Linked DNA regions of Homo sapiens. The protein of the gene in region 1 interacts with the protein of each later gene in a biochemical or structural test. Each region holds a gene or a part of one and is shown on either strand. Other genes may lie near its edges. The genes, in order: LRRK2, ZFAND5, NDUFAF7, RAD51AP1, STK3, BAG2 and CDC42EP3.

Region 1 (3,500 bases):
GAAAGCAGAGGAAGGTATGTTTTGATACAACTTACAAATGCTTTTAAGTGATCCTTCAATACTTATGAAGTGACTTTTAATAAATGTAAATATTCTTATCCATAAGGGATGAGTTGAAAAATAGTATATTCAATTATAGGGACAGTTCAGAAAACTGAATTATATTTATTACCAATAAAATCTTGTATTCTAGATTCAGAAAATGTTGATTTGAGGGTTTGAATGCTGGCTTATTGAGCAACATAACCTCATCTGTGAAACCGGAATACCAACCACATCTATCTCATAGAACTGTTATAAAGATTCAAATAGACAATACATGGACCTAATTTACCAACATGTCTGCCATATAATAACAGCTGCAGCTTCATGAATGTGGCAAAAGCAGAGAGTAGATAACTTTCTAGTCAGATGTCTGGTAGTCTGCAGCAGTTCAGAATTCTACAAGTGAACGTAGGAATAAGTTTTTAAAATTCCAAGTAGATAGATACTAAGTGAATCTTTAAAATGTTCTCAAATTTCCTAGAGAAATATAGGATTGGTTAGAAAGGGAGGGATTAGAAATTATAGAAAATATTCCATTATTTTTTCACATCAAAACCACAAATTTATGTATCTCCTTAAATGTTGTTTTTATTTAAAAAATGTTTTATTACTTCTCAGGAGATCTCTTAGTAAATCCAGATCAACCAAGGCTCACCATTCCAATATCTCAGATTGCCCCTGACTTGATTTTGGCTGACCTGCCTAGAAATATTATGTTGAATAATGATGAGTTGGAATTTGAACAAGCTCCAGAGTTTCTCCTAGGTAATTCTTTTTGTTAATTTGAGAATAAAAATTAGGATGTAATTTTCTCCTTATAATTTAGAAAATAGATTTCATAATTATATTGTCATAGATTTTACTGTCTTCATATATTTGTTATAATTTTTGTATTTGGAATGATATATTTTAAAGGAATATAATATTACAGATCTGGAATTTGTTTTGCACATAATCATGTAGACTAGGATCAAGATGAGGATGAGATTATCATGGAAGCAGAAATATTTATGAAATATATCTTTGTATTTGCCTTAATTGCCAGGGATATGGGAGGCAAATAAGACAGTTTTCAGGTGAGTTAAGTGAAGCAGCCATATTTTATAAAATGACAGAATAGGTAAAGGAAGCACACCTCAGTGTAGCCATAGCAGGGGTTTTATGACTCAGTGTGACAATGCTGAATTCTCATAGAAATATTCATTAAAAGCCTTGAAATTAAAGTCAAAAGTGTTACATGGTGACATACTCAAATACTTTTTTTTTTTTTTTTGATATGCTGAACAATTTACATTTCTTGGTTCCGTGAATTCAATCAGTGATTTTCAGTAGAGTATGATGGAAATCATTGAATTCATGTAGCATGTTTAGGTGCTCATTGAGAAAAGGTGAAGTCATGGTAACCATGTTTCAATATTCTCATTTGTATCTTGACTTCCTGCACATGGATTTTTGGGCCTAAAAGATGTTTTTAAAACATGCTCATACACTTCAGAAGATGAAAAGTGTATGCATTATAACTACTTTGGGAAAGAAACAGTCAACATATGTTACTGTATGTCATTCTGTAGATTACATGTGTGGTTTCTCATGTCTCTCAGAATAAAAGCTAATGTCTTTACAAGACCTGCGATGCTGTGATCTGTCTGGCTCCTCGGTTATCATTTTTAAAAAAAGATATACTTTGTACAAATTTTTTTAATTGACAAGTAAAAATTGTATATATTTATGGTGTACAACATGATGTTTTGATATATGTATATGTTGTGGAATGGAGAAGTTTAGCTATTTAACATATACATTATCTCAAATATTTATGTGGTGAGAACTATTAAAATCTACTCTCATAGCAATTTACAAGTATACAGTATGTTATTATTAACTGTAGGCTGACATACTCAAGTTTTAAACATTCCTGAGAGTCATTGGGACAACTATGAAATGCATTAGATTGATTTAATATAAAGCATTTGAAGACAATTTTGACCTTACTTTGTTTAGTTTTTGTTGTTGTTGTGTGTATACATTTAATTTTAATCAAATTACCCCAGAAATAATGCCTAAGATCTGTCAGTCAGGACATAATATTATTAGCAAAAAGTTGTCCAAAATTTGAGACATGATATTTAAAGCTAAATAAACTCCTTTATACCCCTCTTATTGGCATTGATTGGGAAGTTTAGGTTGAATTTAAATGCTTTGGAACTCAGGAAGTTAATGTATTAGTAATAGTGGGTTAACATAAAATGCTGAATTGTCCTTGCTGAATCCTACATCTTAACCCCAGACTTCAAGGTATACAGGAAAGTACCAGACATGGTGCATCCTTCCTCTGAAGAAATCCCAAACTGTCAGACACAGATCCCTAAAATATTTCTTTTTCCTGCATTAAAATGTGTTTCAGATGAATGGACACGTTTTGAGTAGTGTATGTGGAAACGTCATTTACAAAGTCTGTTTAGTTGGCCAGGTGTAGTAGCTCACTCCTGTAATCCCAGCACTTTGGGAGGCCGAGGTGGGTGTATCACGAGGTCAGGAGTTGAAGACCAGCCTGACCAAGATGGTGAAACCTCATCTCTACTAAAAATACAAAAAAATTAACTGGGTGTGGTGGTGGGCATCTGTAATCTCAGCTACTCGGGAGGCTGAGGCAGAGAATTGCTTGAACCTGGGAGGCGGAGGTTGCAGTGAGCCGAGGTTGTGCCACTGCACTCCAGCCTAGGCGACAGAGCGTCTCAAAACAAAACAAAACAAAAAACAAAAAAGCAAAGTCTGTTTAGCTACCCATATAGGAAAATGTTTGTGATTACTCTCCCTTCTCTAGACCCATGTCCCATAAATCCATAAATCCCATGTTCATTTACAGAAAGCAGTCTAGATAGGAGTTTCTCAGTCTTTGAGCTGTTGCCATTTTGGCTTGGATAACTAACTCTTTCTTATCGAGGGTCATCCTGTGCACTGCAGAATGTTTGGCAGCATCTCTGTCTATCCACTAGATGTCAGTAGTATCTCCCCTTCCCTCAGATGTGACAATCAAAAATGTCTCCGGATGTTGCCAAAGATAAGGGGTGGGGTTGAATACCAGTGATTTAAACAAATTAGGTGTATCCTTCTAAAAACATTTTACAGGTAGCGACTCCAGCATCTTTATATTAGAGTAATCTGGAGAAGGTTATGCCTCTCTCAATTTTCCCTCTTTCCATTTTTATTTGTAGGGCAGCAATGCATTCAGGCTTTTGGTAACTCTTTTTCCCAAGATAGCAGTAACTATTATGCAGTGAGTAATACGACCCACCTTAATAGATATGAATAGACTTGTTTTGTGAATATATTTTAAAATATAAATGTATGGGATTCTGTTCATGCGTCTGAGAAGCCACAGGGTACATTTCCTCTTTGTGGAGCTATTTATTTTTCTGGAGAGCCAAGACAGGTATTTCCACTTCAGTGGTGTG
Region 2 (3,500 bases), on another chromosome or scaffold:
GCTAAATTCCAGTTAATATTTAAAGAGACAGTGTCAACTAAATTAATACTGTTGTTAAAAGTAAGTTGTGGATCTTGGTCACTCCACACAAGCTAGATTGTCTTAATATTTGTATGGTGCACTTTTACTTACAAAAGGGAAGATAAAATGTTTTGGGGAATAATTACCAGGGGTCTGGCCAGGTCAAAATTGGTTAGTCCCCTTCTCCCATCTTCTAATTTTGGTAGTTAATACTTGTTAAAACATCGTTTTTTAATAACTCACTAAAAAGTGTATTCTAGTATGTAGTTGGAAAAAATGACTGACCACAAGTTACAGCACACGAATTTTCCTTTAAGCAAATGCTCTCAAATATGCTTTTTGTACATATGCTTATACATGTTTAAGATGACATGAAAACCCTCCACAACTTTATTTTAAAATAATTTTTCTTTAATATGTATTTTCTCATCCAGAGGAAAACTTATTAATAATTTAGCACAGCGTTTTAACAAGACTTTTAGAAAAGCAAATCTTCCTTGGAAACAAATGCTTGCTATGTAAAGCTTTTTCTGGTAACCCAGCATTGAATATTAACCATTACTAAAGGTTATGTGTATATATTGACTTTAATACATTGAATTTGAGCTTGGAACGGTTTTATTATTTTCTGGTATGAGGAAGACAAGCACTTGTTAAAATTAATAGTGCCTTTGGCTGAGAAATCTGGTTCATAATTTGTGTATTGCAGGTTCCTAGGCACTGGCTTTGACATACTCTGAAACTTCAAATGGAGAACGTAAAAGGAGTTTCGTAAACCAGCTGACCCTAAATTCTTAGAGATTTACTTGTTGGTGCCAGGGTAGCAGGAAGGGCTACCAGTTCTCTTTTCAGCCTTATATGAAGATGTTTCAGCATTAAAAAGTACAGATGCTCTGCCTCAGCAGATTTGTCAAATTACTGATGAAGCCCAGATATGTACAGGTGTTTTAAGAAAACTTTATTCATCCAGTTTAAAGAACTACCTATAAATATCAAGACTCAGTGATAATTGTGATTAGCCAATTAAGTAAAAACATTTGAAATGGTCTGCCTGTAGTGCAGCAGAGTGAAAAGTTAAAGATACCAGTTTCCCAAATTGATTAAAACATAACCCTGAGAGCTAACAGACCTTTTCATAAATTGAAACCAAGAATAGTGATAGGTAAAAATACCCTAATAATTGATAAAATTTCTTTTTGGGTTTTTTTTTGGTCCTAAAACAGTTTGCTTTTATAAAGGCAACAAAATATTGATAATTATCTCTGCCCACCCTTTTTAATGATTAACGGAATTTGGGCTTTTGTTAAAACTTGCGTAGCAATTACAACGGTATACCGATGATTATATTAGACTATATTTTGGTGATAACACTAATTTCTGAAATTTCGTTTCATCTATAGCAGAAAAATATGGCTCAGGAGACTAACCAGACCCCGGGGCCCATGCTGTGTAGCACAGGATGTGGCTTTTATGGAAATCCTAGGACAAATGGAATGTGTTCAGTTTGCTACAAAGAACATCTTCAGAGGCAGCAAAATAGTGGCAGAATGAGCCCAATGGGTAAGTTATTTCCAAGGAAAAACACATTTGAAAGAACTGGTGGACAGAAATACAGAACCAAGAATTGGGGCTGAGAATGCTGAAAGCACATGGAGAGAACACCTGATAAGAGCTTGAAATTCAAGCAACAGCCCAAGTGCTTGACATGACTGATCAGGAATGAATGACTATCTACAAGCATCTTATAGCTTTTCAGTTTTCTTTTTTGGGGTTATTTTGTTTCACACTTGTGTTCATTGGATTGACTTTTTAATATTTTTTGTTTGGATACTCAAGTATAGGATTACAGCACAGTGAATGCTTATATCACTAACCTAATTAAATGCAAGTATTTATTACTACGTCTTGATACTAAGTGAGTTTTTGTAGTGTTCATTGGTTCCTTACAAATCCTTTTTTTAAATAGGAACAGCTAGTGGTTCCAACAGTCCTACCTCAGATTCTGCATCTGTACAGAGAGCAGACACTAGCTTAAACAACTGTGAAGGTGCTGCTGGCAGCACATCTGAAAAATCAAGGTAAGATTGAACGTTTCAGAGTTTTTATGATATTACAAAGAAGAAATCAAGATGTCTGTACTGGTCCAATAATAAGTTAATAGATACCCTTGGCTTTGCAATCGAGGATTTCAGTGTCTTTTAATACATGACTCTTAAGTCATTGAGTAAAGATGTGTGTTACTTACACCTGACTCCCTAACCCCCTCAAGGATACTGTGTTGGAAATGCTGTGCTTTTTTATTTCTTTGTAATTGAGGTTTAGGGATTGTCGAGTGAGACTGTAGAATATTATTGGGCCAGACAAGGTGTTTTGGCAGAGCTGCCCTTTTGCCCTTAAACAAGTTACAGGCACAGCTAAAAATCCCTAGCTGGTTGTAAAATATGGTAACCTATACAAAATGCAGCCTCGAGTTCATGAGCCATTTATCAAACTTTTTTCTCAACCATTTGTGCTGGGCATCCAATTTTTTTTTAAACTTTAGATTATCTAGCTCCATTTGCTCATTTTGGAAATATTCTATAATTTAAAGTTGAACTGACAACTTATTCATTGTCTCAAGAAGTACCCTTAACACCTTTAAAAATTGTTTGCTTGAACTCAAATAGAAATGTGCCTGTGGCTGCCTTGCCTGTAACTCAGCAAATGACAGAAATGAGCATTTCAAGAGAGGACAAAATAACTACCCCGAAAACAGAGGTGTCAGAGCCAGGTATGTTTTTCATTTAATACTTGTTCAGTTCTGAATTTGATAGTGCAAGAAATGGCTGGTGGGGGGATTCTTTCCTTCCCATTGAAGGACCAAAGAGGAGGGAGAGCCATAAAATATAGGCCAAGCAAAGAACTACTATCTTTAAAAGTATCTTGAGTATGAGTATCTTGAAGTGTAAAATAGTCATATTTATTCTCAGTTTCTTCTCTGCTCATCCCCTGCACTACCCTTGTGCATAATGGGCAAAGTCTGTAATCTGGAGATTGGATGTGTTAAAAACTTGATGAAGTTAAATTTCAAGGGTATAAGGAATAATTTTATAACCAAAAGCAGTAACTTTAGTTTTGATATTGTCAATGTTGTGGAAAACTTTTAAGTAGAACAACATATTTGAACACTAGAACTTATTTGAAGTACAATATTCCTATCATATTTTGTGGGAGTTTGAAACTCAGTGTGGAAAGGCATTTTGGTTTTCATGAGATATGGTGACTTTGGAAACTTTGCTTATATAGCACAACCAGAAGTGCCCTGATGGTGGAAGAAGACTGACTTGAATTACCTGTACTAGGCCCTAGAACAAAAAGATTTCTGTGCTTTATATAGTGCACGTAGCTTATTTTATCAATTTGTTCTTTTTTGGCAGAGTGCTGATTAAATGCAATATAAAACTTCTGTTGTGAAAAAATACTGTCAGTGGTTATACAGT
Region 3 (3,500 bases), on another chromosome or scaffold:
GGCCAGGCATGGTGGCTCAATCCTAGCACTTTGAGAGGCCAAGGTGGGCAGATCACAAGGTCAGGAGTTCGAGACCAGCCTGACCAACATAGTGAAACCCCGTCTCTAGTAAAAATACAAAAATTAGCTGGGCATGGTGGTGTGCATCTGTAATCCAGCTACTCAGGAGGCTGAGGCAGGGAATCGCTTGAACCCAGGAGGCAGAGGTTGCAGTGATTGCTGCAGTGATTGATTGCAGAGCTGAGATTGCGCCATTGCACTCCAGCCTGGTGACAGAGCGAGACTCCGTCTCAAAAAAAAAAAAAAGTTTAGGCTGGGCAAAGTGGCTCATGCCTGTAATCGTAGCACTTTGGGGGGCCAAGGTGGGAGGATTGCTTGAGGCCAAGAGTTCAAGACCAACCTGGCCAACAAAGCAAGACCTCGTCTCTTTTTATATTAAAAAAAAAAAAAGCAGAAGGCATAAAGCAAAAGATTAATATTTCATTTCTTACATTAAAATTAAAAACTTCTTGCTCTACAAATAAACTAGCAGCTTTTTGTTCTTCAGAGACCCCATTAAGAGAGTGATTAGACAAGCCACAGAGTGGGAGAAGTTATTTGTAACACGTAACCAACAGAGAACTAGTAGTTAGAATTATTTAAATAACTCCTTTAGGTCAGTAAGAAGACAGATAACTTGAGAAAAATCAGGCCAAAGATGTGAACAAGTCCATTCATAAAAGAGGAAAATACAAACGGCTAAAAAAGCAAAAAAAAAAAAAAAAAGATTAGTCACATTGGTAGTCAGGAAGATGAAAATTAAAATCACAATGAGATACTACTGTAACCCTTGCCAGATTAGAAAAAAAAGCTAAAAGTCTGTCAACACCAAGTATTGGTGAAGATGTGGATTTGTGGATCAATGGCAACTCTCATATACTGCTTGTAAAACTATAATTTAGTACATCCTTTTTTCTTTCTCTTTTTTTTTTTTTTTTTTGAGACACAGTCTCACTTTGTCACTCAGGCTGGAGTGCAGTGGTACGATCTTGGCTCACTGCAACCTCTGCCTCCCAGGTTCAGGCGATTCTTGTCCCTCAGCCTCTTGAGTAGCAGGGATAATAGGCGTGGATCACTACACCCGGCTAATTTTTTTATTTTTAGTAGAGAAGGGGTTTTACCATGCTGGCCAGGCTGATCTTGAACTCTTGGCTTGAAGTGGTCCGCCTGCCTCGGCCTCCCAGAGTGCTGGGATTACAGGCATGAGCCCCCGTACCCAGCCTTGTACAACCTTTTTGAAAAGCTATTGGCCATTATCTATTAACATCAAAGTTTCTTATATTGTATGACCCAGCAATTTTACTGCTAGTGATATACCCTAGAGAAACTAGTGTATATGTGTACCAGGAGACACATACAAGAAGATAGCAGCATTGTATAAAATAGCGGAAAATAACAGCACAAATGCCCATCGGGGGGTAAATGAATCAGTTAATTGTGGTATAGTCATACAGTGGAATACGAAGTACTGCAAGAATGCGTGAAATCACAGTGGAATATAACAGTGTTCAACATGAAACAAGATGTGTGAAAGTAGCAGTTTGCAAGAGTTCGTATCATATGATTGTATTTATATAAAATCCAAAAAATAGTCAACATTAAACAATATGTATTTGGTGATAAAAATATATTTAGTAACATTTATAAAGAAAAGTCAGGGTGTTATTAACTCAAGATTCAGAATGGTGGTGACTTCCAAGGGTAGAGGGAGTCCACAGGGGCTTTGGAGATAAGGTCATGTCCCATTTATGGTAGATATTCTCTCTTGTATCATTGTTTCTATCAGTCTACGTACTATTTTATGAAAACATTAAAAAGGAGGACAGTTGTTTATAGTACCTGATAAGTAATAGTATTTATTAAACTTTTGTAGTTTTTAGTATTTTGGAACTCATTAGTGTTTTTGAGTTTATTTTATATGTACTTGACAATTCAATGTAAAAAACAAACATGGCTGGGCGCAGTGGCCCATGCCTGTAATCGCAGCACTTTGGGAGTTCGAGGCTCCCAAAGTTCAAGATCAGCTTGGGCAATACGGTGAAACTCCATCTCTACAAAAAATACAAAAATTACCCAGTCGTGGTAGCATGCGTCTGTGGTCGAAGCTAGTTGAGGGGCTGAGATGGGAGGATTGCTTGAGCCCAGGAGGTTGAGGCTGCAGTGAGCTGTGATTATGCCTCTGAGTAACAAAGTGAGACCCTGTCTCAAAAAAAAAACCAAAAAACACCAACACATACTCAATATAAATTTAAATTTCTTGATGCTTTATGGTTTTTGCTTTAAATTAGAAATTAAAGGATTTAAAAAATATATAAAATATATAAACATATGACAAATAAGAATCTTGATTATTTGGGTGAAGAAAGAAAACAAAATCACGAATTTAAATTTCCAGGGCTCTATTTTATGTTTTTCAGCAAGGTCATTTGAATATAAAATATTTAATAAGGACCTCAAATCATATTCTCTTGTTCAAGTACTTTAAAAGTTGATTCCAGAGCCCTTAAAATGTATGAAGGATGCTTTTCCAGACTGAGTCATAAGAAGTCCTAAAAGCCAAAGAATTTAAAGGGTTGTAAAGCAAATAGCCAGAGAAGTGTCAGACCTGTTTTATTTTTGATGTTACCTTCTGAAGGAATTTCTCCTGGGAAGTTTTTCCATTTGTATTTCGATCTCAAAACTAAATTTGGAAAAATCATCTTGTTCATATTATCAGTCTGGATGTGCATATTCATATCTCAAAAGTATTAATTGGAGGCAGATCACCAGTAGAAATTAAATTCAAATGAAAAATAATGTTGATACACTTTATGCTTTTGCTATTGATTTTTTAGCCTTAAAAGATTGGTAAAATATTAGTATTTTCCTTTTTCCCTTGCATGTTTACAACAGTGAAAAAATGTGTAGCTAAATATAGATTGAAAATGTGGCAGACCCCCGAGTTAAGCAGTCAGGTTTTCAGTACCATTCAGATTTGGTTCTTTGAGGTTAGAGTTCTCATCATCTCAAAGATGAGATTACTTCCTAGACCTAGAGATGTTATCAAATCAAGGCTGTGTACATTTTATTTCCTTGGTCTTTTTTTAGACTCCATAATCTGAATCATTGTTTTTATCAGATGCCAAATCTTTTATTTTCATTTGTTAATCATAATTTATCATTAGGAAACCAAATTGTGCATTGTTCATTTCTTATTTAGATTATGCTTAATAACTAGTAGGTTAGGATTCTTATAGACTGCTGGAGAGTGGCTTGGGTAAGGAACACATCTCTCTGAAATATTACCTCTATTGTGACATGACTAAATCATTGATGTAAATGATTAGGAAACTTAAAACCTACTTAACACATTGTATTTTTTTTTCTTCTTTTGGTATTTAGGTGTTCACTCAACTTGGATCTGTGCTGAAAAATTGTGACATTTCAGTACATCTGGTAGAGGTAAGCCAAAAATTAAGTGA
Region 4 (2,329 bases), about 36 Mb from region 1:
GACTAAACCTTAAAGTCCTTGGGAGCAGGAGCCATGTTTCTAACCCTAGAGCCTGACACATAATCTCACTGACACATACTCACGAGACACTATTGTGTAATGGTTAGTTACAAGGATGGGATTTTGGAGGAAAATCTGGTTTCTAAGCTTAGATGCTTACTAGCTGTCAGACTACAGGCAGATTGCTTAACGTCTCTGTTTCCTTCTCTGAGAGTGGGGATAGTAATATCTGTATTGGAGTTGTTGTAAAGAGTTAGAGGTAATGTGTGTGATATGCCTACCACACTGCCTGGCATATTAATGCTCATAAAAGATGGCTATTCTTAGGCTCTCAATAAATGTTTGTTGATTAATAAGTTTATTTTTTATATGATTATGTAACTTTATAATTTTTACACATATATGCTAGACTTACTTTTTCTTCCTGCATGACAAACATTTTTACGTATATTTTTCAAATAAGTGACTTCGGTGGACTCTGCTCCAGCTGCCGTCAAATCAGAATCTCAGTCCTTGCCAAAAAAGGTTTCTCTGTCTTCAGATACCACTAGGAAACCATTAGAAATACGCAGTCCTTCAGCTGAAAGCAAGAAACCTAAATGGGTCCCACCAGGTATGGCATATTTATCATCAAGGACAGGAGCTTGGAAAATTATCACTGGTAAATTTTTTTCCTAGTTACAAACATCATGTGTGAGCATTTCCCCATATTATTACATATTCTTCAAAACCAAAGTTCCTGGTTGCTGCATATATTCATTTATTTAACCATTCCTTATTATTGGACATCCAGGTTTATTATTTTTTCAGTGCTATAAATAAGATTGCAATAAGTGCAAATGTCCTTATTTTAGAAATCTCTGGGCATATTACTGATTATTTTCCTAGGATAAAATTTCTAGTAGGAAAATTACAGTGTTAAAGGGTGTAAACATTTGAGATTCCTGAAGTATGTATTTCTGGCAGCAAATCTTTTGCTCAGGACCTGCTGACCTCCACAGTCTGACTGAAGCCTTGGGATCTATATGTGGCAATTCTAGCATTTAACAAATGCCCTAGCAAACTCAACCTCTTGCTTTCACAAATTTCACTTCTCTGTTTTCTTTTGCTCCACAGCCAAGTCTCATGGATCCTTCAAGAATTCTTTGACCTTCACCCTTCTTGACATTACTAAAACCCTAATCCAGGCCCAAATTGTTGCTGCCTTTCCTAACCAGTCCTGTCTTTACTTTCTGTCATCCACCTGCATGAACCGTCCACTTCAGTGAAATTGAAACACTTTTTGTCTCTCAAACATGTTGTATGTATGCCTCTCTCAGGGCCTCTCTTAATCCTCCTCTGCCTGGTGTGTCTTTCTTCATGTGTCCCCTCTCCTTGCCTGAGCCCTTCCAATTCTACTCCTGTTTTTCTTTTGAGGGGCCTCTCTTGATTGGTCCACAGTGCTCACTCCCCTGCTGACTACTATTCATAGATTTAGGCGTGAGCTGTGAGGCTGCATGATTACTTAACTTACAGAGTCTTCATTTCATCATGTGAAATATTGGGAACAACTGTAATCTTTAAAGTCCATTCTGGTTTACAACTTCTAAGATTTTTAATGAGGACTTAAAAACTTTTTGGAGAAGGAAAGGAGGGAAGATTAATTACTTGATGTCATATCATTCAAAGAGTAATACTTAGTATATTTCTAAAAATAATTAATGCTTCCCCAATGAAGGAAATTTAAATGGAGTGATATAACTATAGAAATTTAAAAGTAGCATAATTAAAAAAATACAAGGAAACAGTGGAATGATGGATAAAGAGTTAATGTCATCAAGCACAAAGTGCTTATCAAGTCAGCATGTGACAGTCAGGCAAGTGATGTAAACGAGTGAATTGGGCCCATGCAGTAGACTTGCGTGGGTAGGAATTTTGTTGGACTCAGGAGCGCGTACCCTTTTGAAGGAAGCAGCTGCTACTCAGCTCCATCGTATTGTTTCCATGCAAGATTATGGGCTTGGTATTTCTAGATCTGATTGCTGTTTTCAAGAGAAGCCAGAAATCCAGATTTTAATATGAAATCTGCTAATTTTTGTAAGTTGATTTTTTTTGTTGTTGTTGTTAGCACCATGTGAACCAAAACAATATATCTGAGAGCTAGATTTGGCCCTCAGATTGCCAGTTTGTTACCTATCTTATACAACTGGAGAAGACCACCAAGACCCCAAAAGTAAAATTAGCCAGAGGCATAAATATAACAGTGTCCCCAAGAACTATTAATACAACAAGAAAATATGAAGAGTTTCAGTCTCACTGGTAATTAAGGAAGTGTAAATTAAAATAAAAT
Region 5 (3,500 bases), on another chromosome or scaffold:
CATGATTGTGTGGATGCATTCCATCCTGGGCAACAGAGCAAGACCCTGTCTCAAAAACGTTCATTGGGCTGGGCACGGTGGCTCACGCCTGTAATCCCAGCACTTTGGGAGGCTGAGGTGGGCAGATCATGAGGTCAGGAGATCGAGACCATCCTGGCTAACATGGTGAAACCCTGTCTCTACTAAACAAAATACAAAAAATTAGCCGGGCATGGTGGCGGGCATCTGTAGTCCCAGCTACTTGGGAGGCTGAGGCAGGAGAATCGTGTGAACTTGGGAGGCGGAGCTTGCAGTGAGCCGAGATTGCGCCACCGAACTCCAGCCTGGGCGACAGAGACTCCGTCTCAAAAAAACAACAAAAAAAATTCATTGTTTGCATACATACCGTGAATATCGACATGAAGATTACCTTGAATTTCTGAAAGTACATCATAGGAGTATATCTTGAAAAATGACTCATAGCAAAATGAGAATTACAAAGTGTTAACATTAATGATAATTAGTTTAGGTAGTATTATTTTGAGTTCTGAATTAGTTTATAGATTTATATAATACCAGACATCTTAGTATAGAGGTGAATTGAGTAAATTTTTCAGATGTTTCTGCTATCTTGATACACACACACACACACACACACACACACACACACATTTATAATTTATAATTGGCAGCTAATTTTCTTGACTCTGTTTATGGAACCAAGCCACATAGTCTCCTGTTCTCTGTTGTGTTGCTCTGTTCTTTCTGAAAACTGGCTTTCTTTACTTACTGATCACTACTCATGGCAAAATTGGCATTCGGCCTTTACTTCATTCATTTCCTCATTTATTCATACATTCAGTAATTATTAATTGTTTTCCACATTCCAGATGCTCATTGGTGAATGAAACAGGTGGGTTCTTTGCCCTCATATAACATACACTCTTGTTGTAGCTTGAGCTATGAAAGATATAAGTAGTGTGTAGAGAAAGATGGTGAAACCTGCTTAATAGGGCAGTTGGCAGAGGCTTCTCTGAGAAGGTGATATTTAAGTTGTAACCTGACATTGAGAAGTTATCCATGTGAGTAGCAAGGGAAAAGTATTCCAGGCAGGGGGGAAAGCTATGAGAAGGCCTGGAGGTGGGAAAGAGCTTAATGTGTGGGAGGAATTGAAATGACACCAGTGTGCCTGGATTGGAGAAGAGGACAGTGGCTAGAGATGAGCTCAGAGAGATGGGCACGGATTCAATGATGCCGGCCATGGAAAGGAATTTGGATTTAAGTCAGAGCTCTGTGTGCTGTCATTAAAGGTTTTTAAGCAGTTTATGTTTTTAAAACATCCTTTTGGCTGCTTTGGGTAGAGTAGATTGTAGAGGGTTAAGAATAAAAGAGAAACAAGTTAGGAAACTATTTGAATAGTTTGTGATTTGAGATGGTAGAGTCAGTGGAGATAGAAGTTGAGAGATTTGCGATATTTTGGAGTTATAAATGAAGGACTTGCTGATAGACTAGATGTGGGGAATGAGGGGAAAAAAAGAATCAATCCTGGCTCCTATGTTTTGAATTGAAACAACTTGGGGAATGAGGAAAGACCGGGAGAACAGGTTTGGATATCTATAGTCTCTTTCTTGGAATTTCATAATCCCAAGAAAGTGAATCTGATTGGCCTAAAATGTGATATTAAGTGGTTCCTTTAGAAGAGGAAGTGGGTAGGGAGGAAATGATGCACACTGATTTCTATTTTTTTTTTTTTTTTGAGATGGAGTCTTGCTCTGTCGCCCAGGCTGGAATGCAATGGTGCAATCTTGGCTCACTGCAACCTCCGCCTTATAGGTTCAAGCAATTCTCCTGCCTCAGCCTCCCAAGCCGCTGGGACTACGGGCGTGTGCCACCACACCCAGCTAATTTTTGTATTTTTAGTAGAGATGGGGTTTCACCATATTGGCCTGTCTGGTCTCGAACTACTGACCTCAGGTGATCCACCCACCTCGGCTTCCCAAAGTGCTGGGATTAAAGGCATGAGCCGCCATGCCCGGCCTGATTTCTATTTTTATCCTATTGTTTTCACTCAGTTAGAGTAGAGAATGGAAAACATATCTAGCCGTTTTTAGGTGTTGACATGTTCAGGTGTGCTGGTAACCTGCTATTTTAAAAAAAATCTTTTTATTGCAAAATAAAACATTAGTACAGAACACATGTATGGCTTGGTGAATTATTATAAGGCAGATACCTTTGTAATCACCCCTCAGGTTGAGAAATAGATCACAGTGGCCTTTCCCTATAAGTAATCATTTTCCTGACTTGTGTAGTAATAACCCAAATGTGCATTGCTAGATACTGTAGGTTAGTCTTGATGATTAAGAAATAGTAAGTTTTGGCCAGACACGGTGGCTCACACCTGTAATCCCAGCACTGTGGGAGGCCGAGGTGGGTAGATCACCTGAGGTCAGGAGATCAAGACCAGCCTGACCAACATGGCAAAACCCCATCTCTACTAAAAATACAAAAATTAGCTAGGCATGGTGGCAGGCACCTGTAATCCCAGCTACTCGGGAGGCTGAGGCAGGAGAATCCCTTGAACCCAGGAGGTGGAGGTTGCAGTGAGCTGAGATTGCACCATTGCACTCTAGCCTGGGCAACAAGAGGGAAACACTGTCTCTAGGTTGTGTTTTGTTTGTTTGTTTGTTTGTTTGTTTTTTGAGACAGGATCTTGCCCTGTCACTGAGGCTGGAGTGCAGTAGTGCAATCTCAGCTCACTACAGCCTGACCCTCCTGGGCTCAAGGGATCCTCCTGCCTCAGCCTTCTGAGGAGCTGGGACTATAGGCATTGGCCACCATGCCCAGGTAATTTGTGTATTTGTAGACATGGGGTCTTGCCATGTTGCTTAGGCTGGTCTTGAACTCCTGGGCTCAAGTGGTCTTGCCTTGGCCTCCCCAAGTGTTGGGATTATAGGCATGAGCTACAGCACCCAGCCCAAAAAGCAGTTTTGATATGAGTTGTCACTTTTAATCTTTAGTTTAGTCCTCCATCCTTTTCCTTTTCCTGTTGGAGAACCCAGGTTGTTTGTACTAGTTTCCCAGAGTTGGATTTTGCTGATTGCTTAATATAGGTCAGTTCAACATGTTCCTTTGTCTTCTGTATTTTCTGCAAACGTGCAGCTGGATCCAGAGATGGAGCAGACTCAAGTTCGATCCCTTAGGCATTGTGATATATATATATATATAGATGGGGTTTGGCAAGACCATGGGAATATCATAATGTCTAATTGTCTTTCTTTTTTGTGATGTTAGCGGCTGTGGATGGTTAGTGGGTGTTGCAATATAATGAAATTCTAAATACATCATTTTGCTTTCATTTATTAATTGGAATGTTTTTATAAAAAGTAACTTCCCCTCATCTTCTGTTTAGTTACCCAGTGGTACTGTTGATAAAGGAAAGACAGGATAAATGTTTGATTCTTTCCTTTTATTTACAAGTTTTCAAGATAACGAATTAGTTCCCTGTCTTTCTCCAAAGGTGG
Region 6 (3,500 bases), on another chromosome or scaffold:
CCAGCATGCTCTCTACCCCAAGCCCCTGGCTAGGAGAGATAGGAAAAAGCCTGCAAGCTCAGAAAAGCTGGCCCCAAGCAGTAAGGCCATGTGTTTTATCCCAGGTTCACAGTCCTAACTTCAGTTCCTCACAAGTTACTGGACTGCAAGAGATTAAAAAAGCAGAGGAAGAGGGTGAGAGAGTGGAAGCAGAGAAGTAGAGACCAAAAAAAAAAAAAAAAAAAAGATGAATTGAGGTACAACATAAAGAGAAGGGACAAAATGCAGAGAAAATGAGGAAACTTGTAGGACCAATAAAAGGCATGAATGTAAAAATGTGCTGTCATTTTCTTTTTTCTTTTTTTGAGATGGAGTTTTACTCGTCACCCAGGCTGGAGTGCAATGGCGCGATCTTGGCTCACTGCAACCTCTGCCTCCTGGGTTGAAGCGATTCTCCTGCCTCAGCCTCCCGAGTAGCTGGGATTACAGGCACGTGCCACCACGCCTGGCTAATTTTTATATTTTTAGTAAAGACAGGGTTTCACCATGTTGGCCAAGCTGGTCTCAAACTCCTGACCTCAGGTGATCCGCCTGCCTCAGCCTCCCAAAGTGCTGGGATTACAGGCATGTGACATCTGCCTAACCTGTGCTGTCATTTTCATGTGAAGAACATGAAATAGGAATAGGTCACTTCTGATTTTCTTTTATTGGCACTGGACTTCCTACTTGGGCTCCTTTGGTGCCACACAGGCCACATGGTACTGGGCCAAGTGGCTGGTGAGGTAAGTAAGCAACCTAAATCCAGATCAAAACTGTTACACATCTATAGGTAGGCCATGATCTAGTCTCTACGCTATCCTGCCCAAAGATCAATGAATTAGGAAGTTACAGAAGCAGGAGCTTGCTGACTTTCTCATATAAATAATGAAATGTTGATAGAGCTCCTCGTGCTGGCCAAGACTTTAGACCACTGTCCTGCTTCTATCTGGAGAAGGATGAAGTCAGTGCCTAGTATTGACGACAGAAGACAGCTTATCTTCTATCGTGGCTACATTTTCTCAACCAAAATTTGGGGCATTGTATTCTGATAAATGCACATGTCGTTCTGGAGAGATCTGGGACATCTGATCTCTGGAGCTCTACCCAGCATAAACCCTATATGTGCTTACTGCTCACAGTGTTAAGACTTGATCTCCATCCCAGTTACAAATGCATACCTACCCAAACTTTTGCAGACATGCCAATTTGAGAAGTCATCTGGTATCCCATATATGCAGATTGTCAGGAAGTGGTATTCTACAACCTCTTTCTGTAATCTAATACATTTCATCAGTTAATCTTACATGCTATAGTTTCAGCTTTTATCTCTAAAAAAATTTCATGGCAGAGGTAAAGAAAATAATAAATTTAGTCACAAACAAATGCCTTAATGTTTTTGACACAGATAAGTTTACATCTCATATTGATTTTTAGGAGAAAGAGAAGAATTAAATCTGACTGCAAACCGTTTGATGGGAAGAACTCTCACCGTTGAAGTGTCAGTAGAAACAATTAGAAACCCCCAGCAGCAAGAATCCCTAAAGCATGCCACAAGGATTATTGATGAGGTGGTCAATAAGTTTCTGGATGATTTGGGAAATGCCAAGAGTCATTTAATGTCGCTCTACAGTGCATGTTCATCTGAGGTGCCACATGGGCCAGTTGATCAGAAGTTTCAATCCATAGTAATTGGCTGTGCTCTTGAAGATCAGAAGAAAATTAAGAGAAGATTAGAGACTCTGCTTAGAAATATTGAAAACTCTGACAAGGCCATCAAGCTATTAGAGCATTCTAAAGGAGCTGGTTCCAAAACTCTGCAACAAAATGCTGAAAGCAGATTCAATTAGTCTTCAAACCTAAGAGCATTTACACAATACACAAGGTGTAAAAATGATAAAATACTATTTTAATTGATAACTAGTTCTTTGTTAGGTATAACCACTTAGTTGACACTGATAGTTGTTTCAGATGAGGAAAATATTCCATCAAGTATCTTCAGTTTTGTGAATAACAAAACTAGCAATATTTTAATTATCTATCTAGAGATTTTTTAGATTGAATTCTTGTCTTGTACTAGGATCTAGCATATTTCACTATTCTGTGGATGAATACATAGTTTGTGGGGAAAACAAACGTTCAGCTAGGGGCAAAAAGCATGACTGCTTTTTCCTGTCTGGCATGGAATCACGCAGTCACCTTGGGCATTTAGTTTACTAGAAATTCTTTACCTTAAGCAGCACACACATTTACTACACACACAGTGTTAACAAAGCACTGTGCTTAGAGGGTAAAAAGGAATCACAAAACAAGAATCTTTCCAAAGTTGTCTCATTCAGCAATGTTAAGGCATCTGTATCAAATTATTTTGGATGTAAAGATTCCTGTGTCTCATAATATGAATGTATTTTTTGATATACAAGAAACTGACATAAAATGTGAGAAAACCACCTATAATTTACCACTGTGAACAATTATATATCTATCTGCTTCATCTTTTCTCAAATGCATCAATTCTCTAAAATTCCTATATTGTAACTTGCCTTTTTTTAAAAAAGTTAGATGCTGATATAAAGTCTGCTTAATTGTCAACTTAATGAGCTCTATTTTGTGTAGTTATATCTTTATCCATTCCTCTTTTATGGACATTTAGGTTGTTTCCAACTTGTTGCTATTACTGCAACATATTTTTGTACACAGGACTTTTTCCTTCTTTCATTTTTGTTTTTCTCTGTATAAAGGCCCAGCAGTGAATTATATTGGGTCAAAGGATATAGACGTTTTCATGGCCTCACACATATTAAACTTTTTTTGTATAAAGGTTACAGCAATTTATACTTTTTTCAGTAATTAAAATATAGCTATTTCACTGAAATATTTCCAGCACTGAGCATTAATACCTAGTTTGCATTTTGTTTACTAAAAAGGTTGACCAGTGTGTTGATTCTTCTTTTATCTGATAAAGTGTGAAGCAACTAGAGAACACTTATTTGTTCAAAGTAACTAGTCCTATTGATATACAAAAACCACAACAACTTCCCTGGATACTATTTTGAAATGAACACATCAATTTTTATTTGAATGTAGGTATTCTTCACACTGAAAAACCAAATCAAGATCCAAACTGACTTTATGTATGTATATATCTCTCAATGCAAGCAATATCAAACTTCATTTTCTCTACAAAAATGCCAAGTTAGTCTCTTTATAAAAAGCAGTTACAATCTGAAGACATTCATGTTACTTCCTTTGCCAGCTCCAACTCTGCCTTATTTAAATCTTTGCATTTCATGGGAAACATTAATTCTATCTATGGCAGAGCCACTTGGTTTGTTAGCAGACTGATTTGCTGTCATCAGACTGTGAGATGATTTTTTGTGTGCATCATTTTTTTCTTGACCAGCTTTTTGAAAATTAAGAAATGGATAGTCATGTTTTCTTCAGGTTCTCAAGTATTGTCAGCATCCGTAAATCCCTTCCACTCT
Region 7 (3,500 bases), on another chromosome or scaffold:
CTTTATATATATATAAAGGGGAGTTTATTAAGGAATGTTGACTCACATGATCATAAGGTGAAATCCAGTAATAGGCCTAACTTTTAGGTCCGGGGCTACATGTGCAGGTTTGTTACGGAGGTAAACTCATGTCACGGGGTTTTGATGTACAGATCATTTCATCACCTAGGTACTAAGCATAGTACCTGATCATTAGTCTTTCTGATCCTCTCCCTCCTCCCGCCCTTCCCCCTCAATTAGGCCCCAGTGTCTGTTGTTTCCCTCTTTGTGTCCATTTGTTCTCATTTAGCTCCCACTTACAAGTGAGCACATGCGGTATTTGGTTTTCTGCTCCTGCGTCAGTTTGCTAAGACTAATGGCCTCCAACTCCATCCATGTTCCTGATTGACGCAAGTGCCTGCCTAATTAGACTACCGGCTCCTCAAGGATAGGGACTGAATCTCATTTATCTTGTCATTCATCTTTGCTGCAGTAGGACTTAATGACAAAGTGGGCAGTATAGCCCTTGCTATACTATCTGATTCTTTCTGTAGCATATCTCCTCAGTTGTTGTCAGGTCAGAAATCTTTGTCGCTTACTTGCTGTATTAGTCAGGGTTCTCTAGAGGGACAAGACTAACAGGATAGATGTATATATAAAGGGGAGTTTATTAAGGAGTGTTGACTCACATGATCATAAGGTGAAATCCCATAATAGGCTGTCTGCAAGCTGAGGAACAAGGAAGTTAGTCCAAGTCCCAAAACCTCAAAAATAGGGAAGCCAACAGTGCAGCCTTCAGTCTGTGACCAAAGGCCTGAGAGCCTTCTGGCAAACCACTGGTGTAAGTCCAGGTCCAAAAACTGAAGAACTTGGAGTCTGATGTGTGAGGGCAGGAAGCATCCAGCACGGGAGAAAAATGAAGGCCAGAAGACTCAGAAAGTCTAGTCCTTCCACGTTCCTCTGCCTGCTTGTTTTGTTTTGTTTTGTTTTGAGATGGAGTCTCACTCTGTCGCCCAGGCTGGAGTGCAGTGGCGCAGTCTCGGCTCACTGCAAGCTCCGCCTCCCAGGTTCACGCCATTCTCCTGCCTCAGCCTCCCAAGTAGCTGGGACTACAGGCACCCTCCACAACGACCGGCTAATTTTTTGTATGTTTAATAGAGACGGGGCTTCACCGCCTTAGCCAGGATGGTTTCCATCTCCTGATCTCATGATCTGCCCGCCTCAGCCTCCCAAAGTGCTGGGATTACAGGCATGAGCCACCGCGCCCGGCCTCCTCTGCCTGCTTTTATCCTAGCCACGCTGGCAGCTGATTAGATGGTGCCCACCCAGATTGAGGATGGGTCTGTGTCTCCCAATTCACCGACTCAAATGTTAATCTCCTTTGGCAACACCCTCACAGACACACCCAGGAACAATACTTTGCATCCTTCCATCAAGTCGACACTCAGTATTAACCACCACACTAGCTTATTTTTAAGTCCTGCTGTAGTAAAGTTACTCCTTCCCAGGCTACAGAACATTCAAATGCAAGGGGAGTCACCCCAGTCATTTGGTTGTGGTGATAGAGATCATCTGCGGGCCCTGTGGAAATAGGTCAAGCCCCTGCTGGAACCTTCTCAAGATCTCCGCGGAGAGATTGGCAACCCCCACCAATGCTTTCTCGTGCCCTGGGAGTGACTGAGGCAACTTGGCACCCATGTGTCCACTTAGAGCACAGAGTAAGGGTCCTTGTATTTCCTATTGCTGCCTAGACCTCTCGCCAGCCATTAACGAATAAATAAACATGAGCCATTTATTTATTTGTTATATTAGCGTCAGTCTCTCCACAGTGGAGTGCATCATTGCTGCGGCCTCAACTTCTAGAATAGTGCCTGGCACTTAGTAGGCCCTCCATGGATGTTTGTTGTTGAACACATGAGGGACCAGCCAGGGGCTGGGGAGGCACATGGAAGGTTGGTTTGTTTTTTTTGTTTTGTTTTGTTTTGTTTTGTTTTTGAGACCGAGTTTCACTCACTCAGTTGCCCAGGCCAGAGTGCAGTGGCACAGTCTTGGCTTACTACAACCTCTGCCTCCCGGGTTCAAGAGATTCTCCTGCCTCAGCCTCATGAGTAGCTGGGATTACAGGCACCCGCCACCACACCCAGCTAATTTTTGTATCTTTAGTAGAGACTGGCTTTCACCGTGTTGGCCAGACTGGTCACGAACTCCTAACCTCAGGCGATCCGCCCGCCTCGGCCTCCCAAAGTGCTGGGATCACAGGTGTGAGCCACCGCACCTGACTGTGAAAGGCTTTCTAAAGCTGGCTTCCCATGGGTTGAACTGGCGAGAGGCACATGGCTCACTCTGTGCATGTCGCAGCACCAACTAGAGCCTGTTTTCTTGCTCTCAGACGGCTTCAGAATGAAATGTCTTCCTAAAGAGTGTTGATTTTTGGCCTTCTATTAAGTTTAGTGTAAGTTTATGCTGGTGATGGGGATTTGTTTTATATTCCTTGTGGGCTCACCCTGGGATGGTGGTGCTTTACTTGCCAGCCTGGGGGAGTGAGGTTCAGAGAGAGGTCTCTCAGGGTGGTGCAGGGAGTAAAGCAGGGACTTCTTTCAAATTCCGTTCTTTTTTCAGAATGGGGAATTAGACTATTGAACCCAGAACATTTGGGAGTTTTTCACACTGTATTTAAAACAATCAGTTTAGGTGGCCAGATCCCAAGGTCTAAAAGGAGTAAGGTTAAAAGGAATCCCCACCATGAGCTTCCAGCTCATCTTCTTCCTTATGCAGCTCCAGCTTTTTGGGGTAATTTATAATGAACATTACCCCTTCCATTGATATGGGCTCATTGCCTGCCAGGTGCTTTGCCAAGCACTTTATGCTCGTTGTTACCCAGGAAGACTCCCACCTTTGCCATTTGCACTTCACAGATGGGGACACTGAAGCTCCCAAAGGGAGTCACTACATGGCTCAGGACCCTTAATTTAATACCAGGAAGGATGGGAAAGGGTGATGAAAATTGTATTCGCTGGTAAAAAGTATTTTGATTCTAAGGCTAGTCTTACTTTCCTTAAAAACATTACTTTTTTTTTTTCTTTTTTGGAAACTTCCTAGACGCTAGATGTTTCTGCAAATAGAATCACAGAGCCCTACCATTTGACAGATGGAAGGGACCTTATCTCAGCCCCAGTCTCATTCTGACATGATAAAACCAAGGCCTTAAGTGTTTAAGTGACACAGAGCATGAATCTTCCTCCTAGGCCCAGCTCTGTCGAACTTTTTTTTAAGCCAAGGAAAAGAAAATCTTAAGCCTGATATATAAACAGATAATAACATAATTTCTTTGGTTAAAAAGGAGAGAGATTGGCCCTACTTATCACGTATTTAAGAAAATAACAACATGCCCTTTTGTTTTTTCTCTTCTCTCATACATCACTAATTCTGGTGGGGTCTGTCCAGAGTCCGTCAGATGGCTATGACTTTTTCAGCCACCTCCTCGTGCTGTCAGCTCCCGGTAGCCTTGCCGTCCAGTTTAT

Evidence for each region.
Region 2: the proteins of LRRK2 (region 1) and ZFAND5 form a complex in vitro, tested with the Homo sapiens proteins (one large-scale study listed by BioGRID and IntAct).
Region 3: the proteins of LRRK2 (region 1) and NDUFAF7 form a complex in vitro, tested with the Homo sapiens proteins (2 studies listed by BioGRID and IntAct, with this or other methods).
Region 4: the proteins of LRRK2 (region 1) and RAD51AP1 form a complex in vitro, tested with the Homo sapiens proteins (one large-scale study listed by BioGRID and IntAct).
Region 5: of the proteins of LRRK2 (region 1) and STK3, one has a biochemical effect on the other in vitro, tested with the Homo sapiens proteins (one large-scale study listed by BioGRID).
Region 6: the proteins of LRRK2 (region 1) and BAG2 form a complex in vitro, tested with the Homo sapiens proteins (2 studies listed by BioGRID and IntAct, with this or other methods).
Region 7: the proteins of LRRK2 (region 1) and CDC42EP3 interact on a protein array, tested with the Homo sapiens proteins (2 studies listed by BioGRID and IntAct, with this or other methods).

What each region holds. Positions count from the first base shown.
Region 1 is NC_000012.12:40,322,497-40,325,996, forward strand, and holds part of LRRK2 (leucine-rich repeat serine/threonine-protein kinase 2), read left to right. Parts: coding exon 1-14; intron 15-663; coding exon 664-810; intron 811-3,500. UniProt on the Homo sapiens protein: Serine/threonine-protein kinase which phosphorylates a broad range of proteins involved in multiple processes such as neuronal plasticity, innate immunity, autophagy, and vesicle trafficking.
Region 2 is NC_000009.12:72,358,709-72,362,208, reverse strand, and holds part of ZFAND5 (AN1-type zinc finger protein 5), read left to right. Parts: intron 1-1,421; 5' UTR 1,422-1,430; coding exon 1,431-1,581; intron 1,582-1,987; coding exon 1,988-2,099; intron 2,100-2,687; coding exon 2,688-2,791; intron 2,792-3,500. UniProt on the Homo sapiens protein: Involved in protein degradation via the ubiquitin-proteasome system. May act by anchoring ubiquitinated proteins to the proteasome. Plays a role in ubiquitin-mediated protein degradation during muscle atrophy.
Region 3 is NC_000002.12:37,238,158-37,241,657, forward strand, and holds part of NDUFAF7 (protein arginine methyltransferase NDUFAF7, mitochondrial), read left to right. Parts: intron 1-3,420; coding exon 3,421-3,500. UniProt on the Homo sapiens protein: Arginine methyltransferase involved in the assembly or stability of mitochondrial NADH:ubiquinone oxidoreductase complex (complex I).
Region 4 is NC_000012.12:4,555,890-4,558,218, forward strand, and holds part of RAD51AP1 (RAD51-associated protein 1), read left to right. Parts: intron 1-463; coding exon 464-613; coding exon of another isoform or gene 614-661; intron 662-2,329. UniProt on the Homo sapiens protein: Structure-specific DNA-binding protein involved in DNA repair by promoting RAD51-mediated homologous recombination.
Region 5 is NC_000008.11:98,815,689-98,819,188, reverse strand, and holds part of STK3 (serine/threonine-protein kinase 3), read left to right. Parts: intron 1-3,500. UniProt on the Homo sapiens protein: Stress-activated, pro-apoptotic kinase which, following caspase-cleavage, enters the nucleus and induces chromatin condensation followed by internucleosomal DNA fragmentation.
Region 6 is NC_000006.12:57,182,326-57,185,825, forward strand, and holds part of BAG2 (BAG family molecular chaperone regulator 2), read left to right. Parts: intron 1-1,452; coding exon 1,453-1,865; 3' UTR 1,866-3,500. UniProt on the Homo sapiens protein: Co-chaperone for HSP70 and HSC70 chaperone proteins. Acts as a nucleotide-exchange factor (NEF) promoting the release of ADP from the HSP70 and HSC70 proteins thereby triggering client/substrate protein release.
Region 7 is NC_000002.12:37,661,643-37,665,142, reverse strand, and holds part of CDC42EP3 (cdc42 effector protein 3), read left to right. Parts: intron 1-3,500.